Regions from separate parts of the Homo sapiens genome. Here region 2 is linked to region 1. Evidence: fine-mapped expression QTL. A gene starts in region 1. The other region holds a variant in brackets. All regions are shown on one strand. Distances are between the middles of the regions.

Region 1 (3,014 bases):
AAGAAGGCCCTCAGGAGGACTCAGTAGTCTGTGGGAAGAGGTCTGGCTTTGTGATGACTCCCCACCTCTCCCTCCTTGGGGTTGGGGCTCTGGGGCCTGACAGCAGGAGGCCAGAGCCAGGTTCTGGAGACCCCAGCCCAGGCACACACGCGGGATTAGAGAGGGGCAGGGTAGTGGATTCACCCGGTGGCAGCCTCATACTCCTGCCCTGGGTGACAAGGTCAGTGTCCACCGCTGCTCACATCTGACCAGCTCTGGGACAGAGCCAGGCGGAGCGGTCCCGGTGGTAGCCTAGGAGACTGACTACCCTTTGGGGACTGTGCTGGGACCAAAGGACGCCCCCACCCCACTCCTGGGCGGTCTGGAATCGGCCTGTCCCCCCACCCCCGCACCCCCAGCCTCACTGCCAGGAACTCTCTTGCCCCGGGATCAGGACCAAAGCCGCGGGGAAAAGTTGCACGAGTCTCCAGCTAACTTCACACGCGGCCCCGCGCCCCGTCCTGACCGAGGCAGAGCCCGGCTCTCCTTGCGCCCCCACCCCCAGGCCAGTCCGGCCGGGGCAGCGCCTTGGGAGGGCGAAGAAGCCCCGCGGGGTGTGTCGGGTACGCTGCCGGGGTGGGGCACGGGCCCCTTACCATCTCCACCTGGCGGGGGTCGAGCTGGCTAGGGGGCGCGGGCACCGAGAACTGGATCTTCTTGCGGTCCTTGGGGTCCATGGCGCGCGGGGTGGGCGGTGGGGCTGGGGTGCGCGACTCGGGGTCCCGGCGGCGGTCTGTGCTGGGCTCCCCCGCGCAGGCGGCGGGCTGTGCGGCGAGAGGAGGAGGAGGGCTGTTCGCGCACGGATAAAAATACCGTGCCCGCCGAGGGGAGGGCGCGGGAGCGGGAGGAGGGTCGGCGCCCGGGCTGGGCGCGCCCCCAGGCTCTCGGGACTCGGGGCTCGCCCCCCGCGCTCGCTGAGCCAGGTCTGTGCCTCGCTCCCTCGCGCTCCCCGGCCTGGGTGTCTCTGCGTCTCGGTGTCTCTCCCCTCCTGAGTGTCTCTGCGTCTCGGTGTCTCTCCCCTCCTGAGTGTCTCTGCGTGTCTCCTCTCTCTGCCTCTCCCGTCCTTCTCCACCTCCCTCCCTCAGCCTCTCCTCCTCTCCGCGTGTGTCTCTGCCTCTGCCGGGCTCACCCTCCGGTCCCAGCTTTGGGGTCCCCAGCCCGTCCCCTCCGCCTGGGACTGGCGCCCGGGTGCTCGGAGGGAGGGTTTAGGGGAAACTGGCCAATGAGCATGGAGAATCGTGTTCTCCTGGGGCTGGGAGGAGGGTGGGAGTTAGAGCCAAGGCCTGGGGAGCCAGCTGGGGGGCCCCCTGCGGTCTCCCCAGAACTTGAAGCTGCATTATTGATGGAGTCCAGCAGAGAGGATAAAGGGGGAGGGAGGGGGAGAGGGGCAGCGGGGAGGCAGGACTCTGGCTTTAACCCCTTCGTGGTCCTGGTACTGGGAGTTTCAGAGAGGCCTGCGAGGTCGTGGGGAGAGTACCAGCCTGTCACGCTGTGAATGGGGGTGTCCTGGAAAGGGAGCGAGTGTGACCGAGTTGTGTGTGGGAGGACACGTGTCAGTCATCGTGGCAGGGAGAGTGTGCAGGGGTGTGCCGGGGCCCTGTGGTGCCCATAGCCAGGGAGTGTGTTTTGGGGGGTCCGGTGTGGTGTGAGTGTGTCTGTGTAAGTGTGTCAGAGTGTCAAAGATGCAGGTGTGAGTGGCAGGGTGTGGGAGGACTGCGTGTGTGCGGGGGAGGGTGTGGGTGTGGGGGAGGATGTCAGAGGCTGTCAAGGTGATGGGCAGGCGTGTGCCAGCTTGCAGGGGGTGGGGGACTGTATCCACAGCTCCGCTGTGCAGTTGCTGGGGTATGAGGTTGTGGATGTGTGAGCGCTCCTGTGAGGGAGAAGGGGAATGTGCCCTGCCATGATGTACTGTAGATTCACGTGGCTCCTGTCTTTCCTCTCCGGATCTAATGGGGTGGGGAGGACAGGGCCGGCCCAGAGTTGGGGTGGGTTTGGGGGCTGCCTGTACACGTGCCATCACGTGCATGAATTTGGTGCATTCAGAAGCAGGGTTGGGGGAGACAGGTGTGAGCCTCTCTCTCTCCAGAGGTATTTGTGTGTGTCTCTGGAGCGGGAGCGGGAGGAGCTGGCCCTGTGGGTGGAATGTCCCTGTCTATTTGGTCTATTTGTCCGGGCCTTGGGTGCCTTTGCAGGAGCTGCTGTTTCCCTCCTTGGAGCTGTGCAGAGGGTCTGAATGCTTCTGTCTAGCACTGAGAGGGTGTGTGTAGACGTGTACATGCATGTTTTCCTGGGGCTCTGTTTGTGTTGGCGTCCTCTCTCCTGGTCACTCTCAGGCCTGAAACCCCCAATCCTCCTGCAGCTTTTCCACTCCCAGCCCCAGCATCTGGGTCCTGGGTGGAGTGAAAGGCCAGAGGAATCTTCTGGAATTGGGGTCAGGGCCCACTCTGGGGGTGAGGGAAAGGGTGGCAGGAGGTCCAGAGTGTTGCTCATAGGAGTGGGATGTCCTGGCCATCCAGCTCCACATCAGCCCACCCCAGGCCTGGCTCAAGTCCCTGTATGTTTGTTGACTTATATACTTGTTGGGAAACAGCTGGATGATAAGTTGTTGGCCCAGGGGTGTAGGCATCTCTGGCAGCCCCTAGGCTTGGCCCAGAACCTCTGTCGAAGATGGGGTGTGGTGGGGAGTGGCAAAGACCTGTTTGGCAGTGCCTTCGGAGGGTAAATAAGGAGGTCCTGAAAGGAAGAAGGGGTATGGGAAGGGCATGGCCCAGGCAGTGGCCCGGACAGCCACTGGGTGGGCAGAGGTGGGGAAGGGGCTTGTGGCTTCCAGTGCTGGCAGTGTGGGGAAGGATCGTGGGGATGAAGGGGACAGAGGATAGCTGGGAGGGTGATGAGAGGGTGGAGACAGGGAGGCATCAGCACCAGTTGCACCTCAGAGCCCATAGGAGCTGAAAAGGCCTCAGGGAACATGGCAG
Region 2 (2,500 bases), 29 kb before region 1:
CATCTCCCTCCCAGCACTGCGGTGCTCCATCTTCCCAGCCATAATCCATCTGGGCTGATGGGGGGTGGGGGTGGGCAGTGGTGTCAGACGGAGCCTCAGGTGGCAAATCAATTGATTAGGTTTATGCTTAATGGGCAAAATCCATCACGCTGCTTGAGAGGGTGAAGTGGAGACGGAGTGGATGTGTCCTTGCCCCTGTCCCTACCCCAGCCCACCAGACATTTTCACCAGGACCCCTGAGGCCTTGGCCCTGACTCCAATGTCCAGAGGTTTGAGGGAACTGGATGGACACCAGGCCAGACTGCGACCTGACTCCTTGGAATGACGGGGGTGACGGGCCTAGGCTCCTTCAGGTGGGGCACCAGCCACCCTGGAGAAGGGAGGACACAGGGACTCTGGGCGATGGAGCCCAGGAGCCCTGGAGAGGAAGACCCCTCACAACCGCCTAGACTGGGGCTTCCGCTCTCCAGCAGGGCAGCCAAATCTGGGGGGGCTTGTTAAAGATACAGATGCTCCCCCACTGAGCACACAGCCCCACCATGTGCCTCTTCCTCAAGCCCACCCCAGCTCCATGAAATCTGATGCCACCTCTCCTCTGGCTGCCGGTGAGGCCCCCAGGCCTGCCACCCACCCACCCCATCCCACCCAACCCACACCACCCAGCACTCCTCTTGCTCCTCAGACTCTGCCCTGGGCTCTGCAGCCCCTTCCACCCTCAGTCACTAGGCCTCAGAGCTCTGTCCTCCTTCCTCTTTCCAGCCTGGGCACCCACCGGTGCTGACCGATCAGGACTCGGGAGAGCCAAGTCTCAGCCCCTGCTTTGCCACTCTCTGGCTCCAAACCCCCTGCTCAGCACGACCCTACTGAGTCCTTGTAACCACTGGGCAACACAGACACAGTCTGTCAGCGAACTAAAAATATATGCTCCCAAATACAAAAGTAAAACTACAAGACTGAAAATCAATACAATTTTAATTAAATGTCTGCCAAGGGAAACATCATGTGGACTCTACTAATTGTTCAGTGCAGGATTCTGAAATGTTTCATGACATCTGAAAACAATTAGTAAGTTAGATCTTCTCACTTTGCAAGAATTCCCAGGTACGCATGAGGACTGCAGAGCAATCGCAGCCAACACAGCCAAATAACTTCAAAAGCACAATTACAGAGGCCAGGCACAGTGGCTCATGCCTCTAATCCCAGCACTGTGAGAGGCCGAGATGGGAGGATCACTTGAGCCCAGGAGTTTGAGACCAGCCTGGGCAACATAGTGAGACTCCATCTCTACCAAAAAAAAAAAAAATAGCCAAATGTGGTCATGCACCTGTGGTCCCAGCTACTGGGGAGGCTGAGGTGGGAGGAACCCTTGAATCTAGGAGTTGGAGGCTACAGTGAGCTATGATCACATCACTGCACTCTAGCCTGGCCAATAGAGCAAGACCCTGTCTCAAAACAAAACAAAACGAAAGTAAAATTATCAAAATCTTTTCAGCTCTTTTTGGGTAAGGAAACAAGTATTCA[A/G]TGAAGGATGCAGGTAAGTTTTAGTGTTTGCTTTGATGTTGGATGGGACCTTGAAAAGGAAGTCTGCCTAAGACCTTAGAAGCTCTGCAGAAGGTCCTGAGCCTGCTGGGCCACAGCTTTTTCATGGGTAAGATGGCCCCTAGGGCCATCCATGGCCATGGCTCCAGCTCACTGAAGGTGCCAGCTCATCTCTGGTGCACAATCGACAGTCACCCTCAGAGCCCTGTCTCTCCCTCCAGCTCAACATGCCCAGAATCAAACTTAATCTCTTTGCCCGGAGCTGGCCCCTTCTCTGAGCTCATCACCTCTATTAACAAGACATTGTTTTCTTGTCACATAAGCATGAGACCTGGAGGAAGGGCCCTTGCCATCCGGAAGTCTGATGGGGAGCCCATGCTGCAGAAGGAAAACGAGGGGAGGACTCAAGGGGCTGAGTCCCTTGCTGAGGTCATCGGGCCAAAGCCGAGGAGGAGCTGGGACAGAACTGAGCCTGGGGTGCCCTGCTTCCAGGGCTCCTGCTTATGTGGGCTTGGCCCTGCCTGGAGACCAGATCAGGCCACTGCCAACTAGACTGTGTTCCTGAGGGTGGGCCAAGCACTGCGTGGGGTGGGGGTGGGGCAGCTCTGGTCTCCAGGCTGCCCGGCAGCATCTCATTAGAGCCACTGGGAACTGGGAGTTTTTCCTGTTTTGCTTCCCACTGTGCCCTCTGCTTTTATTTACTTATTTATTTGAGTCAGGGTCTCACTCTGTCACTCAGGCTGGAATGCAGTGGTGCAATCATGGGTCACTGCAGCCTCAGACTTCTAGACTCAAGCAATCCTCCCACCTCAGACTCCCAAACGGCTGGGACAACAGGTGTGCACCACCACACCTGGCTAGCGTCTGGTTTTAGCACAGTGGTTGGGACACAGCAGAGACTCAAAAAATGTTTGCTGAATGAATGAATGAATGAATGAATGAATGATCGAACAAACGAATG

The links.
Region 2: its variant is fine-mapped to the expression of PPP1R1B in whole blood (TOPMed, PIP above 0.99).

Annotation. Positions count from the first base shown.
Region 1 is chr17:39,625,095-39,628,108 of GRCh38, reverse strand. PPP1R1B (protein phosphatase 1 regulatory inhibitor subunit 1B) reads right to left here and starts at 1,157. Exons shown (of 7, transcript NM_032192.4): 1 at 636-1,157. The coding sequence starts at 716.
Region 2 is chr17:39,654,153-39,656,652 of GRCh38, reverse strand. All of the region lies in intron 2 of STARD3 (StAR related lipid transfer domain containing 3), which reads right to left. Among named protein-coding and RNA genes, the nearest start is that of TCAP, 9.9 kb to the left of the region's middle. RefSeq lists an enhancer at 2,090-2,500. The variant A/G (reference allele first, on the strand shown) is at 1,522.